2 separate regions of the Homo sapiens genome follow, and region 1 is linked to region 2. Evidence: fine-mapped expression QTL. A gene starts in region 2. The other region holds a variant in brackets. All regions are shown on one strand. Distances are between the middles of the regions. Region 1 overlaps PXK (PX domain containing serine/threonine kinase like). Region 2 holds the start of HTD2 (hydroxyacyl-thioester dehydratase type 2).

Region 1 (5,373 bases), 29 kb before region 2:
GCTAATTTTTGTATTTTTAGTAGAGACAGGGTTTCACCACGTTGGCCAGGCTGTTCTCGAACTTCTGACCTCAGGTGATCCACCCGCCTCAGCCTCCCAAAGTGCTAGGATTATGGGCATGAGCCACCGCGCCTGGCCTAAAGAAACTTTTTTTTTTTTTTTGAGACGGAGAGTGCAATGGCGTGATGTCGGCTCACTGCAGCCTCCACCTCCCGGGTTAAAGGGATTCTCCTGCCTCAGCCTCCCAAGTAGCTGGACGACAGCCATGTGCCACCACGCCCAGCTAATTTTGTATTTTTAGTAGAGACTGAGTTTTACCATGCTGGTCAGGCTGGTCTCGAACTCCTGACCTCAGATGATCTGCCTGCCTCGGCCTCCCAAAGTGCTGGGATTACAAGTGCGAGCCACCACGCCTGGCTAAGAAATTTTTAAAGTATTCAGTATAACTTAGAATTCTAAAGAAACTTCCAAGTAGCATTCTAAAAGGAAGTTCAAATTCTGATACTGAGTACTAGATTACCCTAAAATTTCAGGATCTGAAAGCAGCAATGTCTCCTAATTTGCCATTACATTTGAATAGTTATTCTGGTGATAAATAAATAAAGTTTAAAAGTCTATAAAAAGGGTCGGGTCACTGATGAGAAGCTGAAGATCAATAAACCAAGCCACTAAAACCATCTGTTTTATGAATGGTAAAGATCCTAGTTGAGGCCAGGTACAGTGGCTCACACCTATAATCCCAGCATTTTGGGAGGCCGAGGCAGGAGGATCACTTGAACTCAGGAGTTTGAGACCAACCTGGACAACATAGCAAGACACCATCTCTACTAAAAATCAAAGAATTAGCCAGGTATGGTGGTGCATGCCTATAGTCCCAGCTACTCAGGAGGCTGAGGCAGGAGTATTCCTTGAGCCAGGAGACTGAGGTTGCCGTGAGCTGTGGTCCTGTACTCTAGCCTGGGTGACAGAGCAAGAACCTGTCTCACAATGAAAAAAAAAAGACCTTGGAATCCAACAGAACAAAAGCTCCATGGATGCAGGAGCTGTCTGGTTCACCATTCTATCTCTAGCATGTGCCTGGCACATAGTAGGCATTTAATACATTTTTGTTGAATGAATGAGTATAGCTGAATAAATAAGCCATGCAGGAATGCAGTTTCCAAATATCAAAAGTTCAAGGAGAGATCCATTTTCAGTAAAGATTTTAACATGTAATATTATCTTTTCCACTGATTTTAAAAAATGTTTTCTATTGTGCCTTAACTATCACTATAATTATCTGTTTCTCAAAAACAAAATGTCCAAATGGAAGATAAACAGTCCCTGATCCAGATGAACTCCACAGAAGAATATTTAAAAAGGAGAAAACTGCCAGGCATGGTGGCTCAAACCTGTAATCCCTGCGCCTTAGGAGCCCGAGGCAGGTGGATCACCTGAGGTCAGGTGTTCAAGACCAGCCTAGTCAACGTGGTGAAACCCCATCTCTACTAAAAATACAAAAATTAGCCAGGCATGGTGGTGCATACCTGTAATCCCAGCTACTTGGGAGGCTGAGGCAGAAGAATCGCTTGAACCTGGGAGGTGGAGGTTGCAGTGAGCTGAGATTGCGACCTGCACTCTAGTCTGGTGACAGAGCGAGACTCTGTCCCCCACCCCCCAAAAAAAGGAGAAAACTGAGATGAAAAGCTATCACACACAGCCTACCCACCAGCAAAAATTGGATGTGCACATTTGATAACAGCGCTTTCCAAAACTTTGTTTCCTCTGGTTTCTATTTCAGCTATGTAAGCATTTTTTTAGTCTACTAACTTTAAAAAGTTTTCCCTTTTATATAGCCAAGAACTTACCTTTCCCTTGTCCTCTCTTGGTCCTCCTAAATTTTCTCACAACTCACCTGTGTGGCTTTTCACCAGAATTCCTTTTGTCTGGAAAATCTTCCTTCTTCCTCCAAACCTAACCTGAAAGCATCCTCCCCCTAAATACTAGCCTTTCTGATTTTATAGAAGCTTCATTTCCTTGCAGCAGAGGGCTGGTCTAGCTCTTAATGCTAAATTCATTTTGCTCCATAAAAATGATGCATCAGCATCAGCAAAGCACAGAATCACCTACCAACACATGTCCTTTCTGCCAGTTGCTCATCCAAATATGCCTTTCTGGTGGTGACCTTGTGTTCCCTTCATCCTTCTGGTGACTCAGTTTTCCAAACCACAGAATTTTTCCCTACCAAGTTCACAAATCCTAAATCATTTCTGTTATAGGTGGTTTCCCAGCTGGGTGCAGTGGTTCACACCTATAATCCCAGCACTTTGGGAGGCTGAGGTGGGAGGATCACTTGAGGTCAGGAGTTCAAGACCAGCCTGGGCAACACAGCAAGAACCCCATTGGTATTAAAAAAAAAAAAAAAAAATATATATATATATATATATATATATATATATATGTTTCCCAAGGTTAAACAAACTTGATAAATGAAAGGAACTATGGACAGAAATGAGCTTGCTTGCAATAACGCCCTCTAATGTGTTTAACGCTTTGCACAAATGTTGTCAGGGAGTGAAGAGATGGAGGGAGGAAGGAATACATTTTACAAATACTTCATCAAGATGATTTCATTTGATCTTCCTAACAACCTTGGGAGGCAGGCAGGGCAGGCATTTATTACTCCCATTTACAGATGACAAAACTAAACTTCAAAAAGGTTTAAGTGACTTGCCCAGCCTATATCACATGACTAGCAAGTATCAGCTCAGACCTGTATTAAGGTCTTGCCTCTTCCAACCCCAAGTCTGTCTCTAACTCCGTATGTTTCTGTCTACAGCCAAGGAGTAACTTCCTAGAGATTCAGCATTTCAAAGCGAGAGTAGAGCTCTGACTTCTGGAACACCATCTCCCTTCAGCTACCAAGCTGGAAAGCCAACTTCAATCTCCCCAAGAAAAAACAGTGCCTTTCTCTTCTACATACCCCTCTTAACAACTACTTCTTTCCAAAATAATTTCCAACAGTTCCTGTTTTAAAAAAGACTTACTCATAAGACACTAACAGTCCAAAAAGTTTGCATCAGCGTAAGATTTTCTCAATAAACTTCAGGGCTGATGCAACATTTCTCAGTCAAACTTTACAGCTAAAATGACAAGAACACAGAACAGTCAAAAAATTACGCAAGACAATGCTACAGTTTTTTACTCTACCACATCTGCCTCTATGGGTCTCCTGTGAGTCA[C/T]TGTCTTTTGTGGTCAGTCATCCCTACAAGAACTGCCATTTTCTACCCTAAATTATTTTATTTTTTAAAGAAAAGATCTGCAGGGCCAGGTGTGGTGGCTCACATCTGTATACCAGCACTTTGTGGGGCTGAGGCAGGAGAACGGCCTGAGCCCAGGCGTTCCAGACCAGCCTGGACAACATGGTGAGACGCTGTCTCCACACACACACACACACACACACACACACACACACACACACCAGCCTGGACAACATGGTGAGACGCTGTCTCTACACACACACACACACACACACACACAGACACACACACACACACACACACACACACACCCTTACAATAAAAACAGAATCCTATTACATCTTTCGCCACCTAGCTAAAGCACTGATCTCTAAGTTATTTTTTCAATGTTTACAATTACCATTTTACATAAACAGAAAAAGAGGCATAGTAAGGTTGAAGTTGGATTATTTAGTCATTTGATAAACACATTTGAAATCCTATCAAAAACCAGGGAATGAGACTCAAAAGTGAGGAAGAAGTGCCCCTCCTCTTGTAGCCTGGTGGAGACAAAAAGTAAAGAAGTAATTACAGGACAAACTAATCAAGATTAAGGTGTGGGTAGGCACATGGGCTGGGGCTGTAGAAATCATGAATGCTTCCTAGGGAAAGTAATTTGTGAGTATTTAGAAACATCTATCTCTTTATTTTCAATACAAAATAAACCTAAAGGACTCGACACTATTCCCTGAAAGGTTATAAGACTTACTTGCCAATAGTCAAGTCAAAAATCAAATTTAATAGCTGAATTACTCTTGACTCCCTATCCTAAATTTCAACCCTTATGCCATACTCCCTTTAGGCACAAATGATAGCAAGTTTAACAAATTCTGTCCTGTATGTGCCTTCTCACATGTCTACAGAATAGGATTAAAGACACACAGCGTGAAATAAATAGCCCTTTTTAAAAAGATAATAATTTTCTTAACTGGAAGTGAATGCTTTGAACAATTCAAGCCCTACAAAGCACGGCTGTCAGAAGAGGAAACTGAGGTTCAAAAAAGTCTCACTTTAATACAACAGAATAAAAGGTCTCTTTGAAGTCATCAGAAGAGCTTGAACGAAAAGAGAAACAGAAGGCTATTGTGAGCTTTAGCCTCCAGATGATGACCCCCCAAACACACTGCAATGGTAAACAAACAAGCCTCTGAGTCTGAATCTGATTCGGTGGACTGACAAAACATCACAATTGAAGGAATCTCTCTCCTCACTCATTACTTTTCCAAAAAAGTCCCACTAGCTGATAGCTCCAGGTTTCTTGCTGGTTCCTAGATTTATTGCTTGGAAATTATAATGCATAGTGGGCCTTTCAAAAAAAAAAAAAGGTACAAGCAAATGAAAACAACCACGGTTTTAAAGCCCCATAAAAGACCGTATATGTAGCAGAAATGAACCCTGCCAATGTTTACTATGAGGACCTATTACTCCTTTATGCTACTCGAGTGGATTTTAAACTCAAATGAATGCTACCACTGCCCACTAAAGAGCAAGTTAGAGAAGCACATTCATACACCTGCTTAACAGCGCCCCGACTGCCGCCCCCACCACTTCCCGGGACCAGGGCCAAGCGGCTGACCTGGAAACGGGGCTGCAGACCCCAGCCACTTACACTCTGCTGTCCCAACAAGTAGGCTCTGGAGTCACACTTCATTTGGCCCGGCACACCCTCATCCCCATCACCCAGACCCTCAGCTGCAAGGAGGAAATTACACGGCCTCAAAAAGGAAAAGGCTGGCGGCGGGCAGAAGTGGATGGTCCTGAGCGGTCTCGTTCCTGCTCCCCTAGTCCAAGGTGAGCCCGGGAATCCCGCAGCCCCCGCCCCCGCCCCCCAACTCGGAGTCGCTTTCCTGGTCGCCGCCGAGCTCCTTCCACCCCGCGGCGCCGGGAGCTGCGGTCCCCATCCTTGGCCCCTCCGGGCCTCAGCGTTCGCCTGGGCCCCAGGGGCCCTGACCCAGACCCAGCGGCGCGCCACAGCCTTCTCGGCCAGGGCCGCCCACCCTGTGGCCCGGTCTCCGTCCGACGACCCTGCCCGGCCCGCGCCAGGCAGCCCGCAGCCCCCTCGCGGCCCGGGGCCGCCCCACGCCGCCCGCCCGCC
Region 2 (5,367 bases):
GCCACTGTGCCTGGCCTCCTGTTTGGTTTTTAAGACTTCTGAGCACAGTAACTCATCTAATTCTGATCAAACTAAGGTTACCCATACGAATACAAAATAAGTTTCTATATTCTATAAATGTCAAATCACTGTACTCTTACTTAAAACATAACAACATAATTTTGGCTAACAATTTTCCTTATGAGCACCCAGCTCTTTGCTAAACATTTCACATGCCTTAGCTTGTCTTCAAAATGCTCCTGAGGTAAGAGGTATTATTATTCCCATTTTCGAGAAGATGACACAGAGGTTTAGTAAACGTAGGTAACATCTGCCCAAGGGTGCCCAGAGATTCCAACCACTCTGAGCCCACTCAAGACCAGTTACGATGCCTCTTTATCCAAAGAAAAAGAAAAGACATAAAGGAGTAAAATCTAAGATTTGAAGGTCCTCTTCTTGTTTACTCTCAGTCAACACAGAACACAAAGAGAAGAATGAGGGATGGTCGTTCTGCCGTCTCCTCCCATCCTGTGTCTGCCTGCTCTCAGTCCAAAAGCCAGGTCTGTGCAAGACTATCTGTGAACAACTGAGCTTAAACAGCACAGGGGTTGAGAAGAGGGATTCCTGGAAGGGGCACTCAATGCAGCTTCTAAAAGGTCTGAACTTTCAAGAACGTAGAACATGCTCATCTCTCTGTAGACAGTTCCTTTCCTTGGCTCCATGCCAACCTTGCTCTCCCTCTGGATAGGTCCTATTCATCCTTCAACTTTCAGTTTAAATACCACCTCTTCATGAAGGTCTTCTCTGACACCCTTCTCTAAGTTAAGCCCCCATGTTATGCAATCTCTTAACACTGTCTATTTGTTTAATATATGGATCCCCCACTACAGGGAACAGGAAACTGAGGCCCAATCAAGGAAAGGGACTTATCCAAGGTCACAGAGCTATGGACCAGCATTTCAAAACCACTCTGGGTTAGACCCAGTTCCAACCACTCCCAGATGATGACCTCTGGAGAAAAGAAGTCAGGGTCAAGGAGCTACATCTACCAATCCATTCAACAAACATTAATACTTTGGGGCCTGGCGTGGTGCTCATGCCTGTAATCTCAACAGTTTGGGAGGCCAGGAGTTTGAGACCAGCCTGGGAAACATAGTGAGACCCTGTCACTAAAAAAAAAAACAAAAAAACTTAAATTAACCAGGCATGGTAGTGTGTGCCTGTAGTCCCAGCTACTCCAGGGGCTGAGGTGGGAGGATAGCTTGAGTCTGGGAGGTTAAGGATACAGTGCACTGTGATTGTACCACTGCACTCCAGCCTGGGTGACAGAGCATGACCCTGTCTCCAAAACAAACAAACAAAAAATACTGTAATACTATGACACAAAGTAGGTATTCAAATGAGAGAAAAGTGATAGTGGTATAGGCCTATATATTCAAAAGAATCCTTGGTTTCAGGACAGCGGAAATAGTTACCTGATGCTTCTTTCCCAGTCACTAGAGTCTCCCCTAACTAGAAGGGCAGGGAGAACAAGAAACCTCATCTGTTTCTTTCATTGCTTGGCACATAAATGTTTTTTAGTGTTACTGCCTTGATGGAGCTGGCTGCCTAAAATAGGGGAGTGAAATTAGACCCAGGGCTTAGATGCCAGTAAAACGAAGACTTACACAACATTCACGAGATGGACAGTGGTGATGGCTGCACAGCGTTGTGAATGTACTCAATGCTACTTACGATAAATTTTATGTCACGTATTTTTTGCAATTAAAAAAAAAAAAAAAGACTTACAAATGACAGCACTGCCCTCTGCAGGCTGTTCTGACATTAAAGGAGAGGATACCTGGGAAATTATTTTGTACAGACTGGTATTAAATATATTCACCAGGCTCTCCACAGATGTGGGCTCACGAAGTTACTGTCATCGTCATCTTTAAAGTCAGTCTTGTTGTTTGTTTTGAGATGGAGTCTCACTCTGTCGCCCAGGCTGGAGTGCTTTGGGTCGAAGCAATTCTCGCTCCTCAGTCTCCTGAGTAGCTGGGATTACAGGCGTACGTCATCACGCCCAGCTAACTTTTGTATTTTTAGTACAAATGGGGTTTCGCCATGTTGGCCCAGGCTGGTCTCGAACTCCTGGCGTCAAGTGATCCGCCGACCTCGGCCCCCTCAAAGTGCTGGGATTACAGGCATGAGCCACCGCGCCCGGCCTAGAGTCAGCCTTTTTTAGTGGCTGCGCAGGGATGCTCCTAATCTGACCTATTAGTAATAAATCTGATTCTCCCTACTCCCCCGCTTCTCCATCCCTACGGCGGCCAGTGAGTCTATTAACATCTACTCAAGCTACATCATTCCTCTGCTCAAAATCTTGCTATGGTTCCCGTTTTATCCAGAGTAAGGCCAAAGTCCTTAGAGCAGCCTGCAAGGCTCTGCCTCACCTGCAGGACTGCTCCCTCTACACCTCTGACTTCATGTCCTGCCATTCTCCCTCCGCTCAATCCCCGCCACCACACAGGCCTAGCCTAGCTCTTTCTCACGCGCCAGTCTCGCTCCCACCGCTGGGCCTCGGCTCTAGCTTTTCCCCATGCTGGGAAAGATCTTCCTCCAGGCAGCCACCGGACTCACACCCTTGCCCCCTTCCTGGCTTAGCTCAAATCTCAATCGGGTTGGCCCAGTGCCCTTCTCGGCTAACACCGCACCCCACCCCCATGCCCCGTCCCTGCTTTCTTCTTCGTAGCATTTGCCTTTTTCTATGACAATTATGTAACTCGTTTATCTTTATCTGTACTTCCCCTCCCCACCCCAACAAAAGTCCACTCCAAGAATCTTGCTATCTTGTTCACTGCTGTTTCCCAAGGCCCTAAAACACTGGGTCGTGCACAGTGGGCGTGCGACGTACAATTTTTGGACTAAATCAATCACTTTAAAAAGCTCAATATCCTTACTGCTGAGCACTTGGGTGGCTTTCAATATTTTTCAACAACCACTATTTAGCGCTCACCTCGCGCCGGGCGCATGGAGAGCGCTCAGGACACGGTCCCGAAGTCTCGCCCGGGCCTCTCGGCCACGTTCTGCGGCCGAGACCCTACGCGGCGCCGTACAGAGGCCCTCAGCGCCCGGGGTCGGAGAGGACAAGCTACCCAAGGCGCACCGCCCGCCCCGCGCATGCGCCCGGGTCGCGGCCAACTGAGACGGCTCCCAGACAACCGCCGCTCTTTGGAAGGCTTCCACCTACCCACTCTTCGTCGGACTAGCCTGACGCCTGACCAGACTCCTATTCGCCGCAAGGACCCGCCAAGGCTTGGGGCTCCCCGGCAGCAGCCACAGCTGGGCCCGAGAAACTCCTGGTGTCTTTACGTTTGGCTTCTCCTCGTCCCGCCCCACGAAGCGTGACGCCCAGGCGGATATGACGTCACCACGCGGCGTCGTCCTAAGGACCCAGGCGCGAATCCTGATCCGGAGCTGAGAGCGGCCGAGCTCAGCGCCCTCTGGTGTCCACTCCGGGAAAGCCGTGTGTGCAATTTGCTTGGGGTGCGGTTTAGGGCGGGTTTTTTCCGCCTTGGACGGTGCTTCATAGTTATCCATTTCTTCATGCATTCATTCATTCATTCAACAATTTTTTCGTTGTTTTTTTGAGACAGTTTCACTCTGTCGCCCAGGCTGGAGTGCACTGGCGCGATCTGGCTTACTGCTACCTCCGCCTCCAGGGCTCAAGCGATTCTCCCACCTCAGCCTCCTGAGTAGCTAGGACTACAGGTATGCTCCACCATGCCTGGCTAATTTTTGTATTTTTAGTAGAGACGGGGTTTCACCATGTTGGCCAGGCTGGTCTCGAACTCCTCGCCTCAAGTGATCTGCCCACCTTGGCCTCCCAAAGTGCTGGGATTACAGACGTGAGCAACTGCGCCCGAGTCATTCTACACATTTTTTTCATTATATTATAATTTATTTATTGAGATGGAGTCTCGCTCTGTCGCCCAGGCTGGAGTGCAGTGGCGCCATCTTGGCTCACTGCACCCTCCGCCTCCCTTCAAGTGATTCTTCTGCCTCAGCCTCCCAAGTAGCTGGGACTACAGGCATGCACCACCATGCCCAGCTAATTTTTGTATTTTTAGTCGAGACGAGGTTTCACCATGTTGGCCAGCATGGTCTCAATCTCTTGACCTCGTGATCTGTCCACCTCGGCCTCCCAAAGTGTTGGGATTACAGGCGTGAGCCACCGCGCCTGGCCTAATTTTTGTATTTTTAGTAGAGACAGGGTTTCACTATGTTAGCCAAGCAGGTCTCAAACTCCTGACTTCAGGCAATCCACCCACCTCGCCTCCCAAAGTGTTGGGATTACAGACGTGAGCCACCGCGCCCAGCCTACAAAATTATATCTAGCATCTCCTCTCCTCAAGATCTCCTATGTCAAGCACTCCCCAAAGATAGGACCCACTCTCAGTGTCCCTTGTGACTCCCAGCACATAGTAGGTGTTCTATCTAGGCCGTCCTGGAAAGACCCACAAAGTAAAGACTTACTTTGTGCTAGGCACTATGCAAAATATTTTACATATGTCATCTCATGGAACCCTCACACAATCCTGAGATGGCTATTACTATGATCATCACCATTTTAGAGGTAGAAACTGAGGCACAGGCCAGGCGCAGTGGCTCATGCCTGTAATTCCAGCACTTTGGGAGGCTGAGGCGGGCAGATCACTTGAGGCCAGGAATTCGAGACCAGCCTGGCCAGCATGGTGAGACCCCCATCTCTACTGAAAATACAAAAATTAGCTGGGCACGGTGGTGCACACCTGTAATCCCAGTTACTCGGGAGGCTGAAGCAGGAGAATTGCTTGAACCTGGGAGGTAGAGGTTGCAGTAAGCCGAGATCACACCACTGCACTCTAGCCTGGCAACAGGAAAAGAAACTGAGGCACAGAGAGGCTAAGTTATTTGCTCAAGATCACAGTTATAAGCAGTGGCATGGGCTGTCTGATTCTAGCCAGTGCTCTCCATACTGCACTGTATTACCACCAATTGAGGGGCTGCAGTGGGAAGGGAAACTTTAGTGTAACCCCCATGAGGATGGGGCCTTGTCTGTGTTTCTCACCACTGCATCCCAGTTCCTGGTACCCAATGGTGACCCAACATCTATTTACTGAAGGCATTTGTTCATAAATGGATGTGCTGGTTTTGCTTGGGTTGGGGGGCAAAGGGTTGCCTTGCACAGGACAGTTGAGTCAGCGGGGATCTCCTTCCTCAATTATTTTCTCAAAATCCCACTGTGTTGTTTCCAGAAGCTTCAGTCCTCAACCTTGGCCATGCTCTCCAGTTCTGTGGTTCCTACTTTCTTCTTCCTTCAGAGGAGACAGGGCTTGTTCCAGATGTGGGAAGAGGTGGAGAAAGCAA

Evidence for each region. PIP is the estimated chance that this variant, and not a neighbour inherited with it, causes the effect.
Region 1: its variant is fine-mapped to the expression of HTD2 in whole blood (TOPMed, PIP above 0.99). The same link has a PIP of 0.9 or more in lung.

Annotation. Positions count from the first base shown.
Region 1 is chr3:58,333,106-58,338,478 of GRCh38, reverse strand. All of the region lies in intron 1 of PXK (PX domain containing serine/threonine kinase like), which reads right to left. Among named protein-coding and RNA genes, the nearest start is that of PXK, 2.9 kb to the right of the region's middle. RefSeq lists silencers at 4,743-5,037, 5,284-5,373. The variant C/T (reference allele first, on the strand shown) is at 3,222.
Region 2 is chr3:58,304,259-58,309,625 of GRCh38, reverse strand. It overlaps HTD2 (hydroxyacyl-thioester dehydratase type 2), which reads right to left and starts at 3,106. Exons shown (of 5, transcript NM_001348712.2): 1 at 2,975-3,106. RPP14 (ribonuclease P/MRP subunit p14) reads right to left here and starts at 3,381. Exons shown (of 6, transcript NM_007042.6): 1 at 3,209-3,381. RefSeq lists enhancers at 2,816-2,945, 3,066-3,325, 3,516-3,595.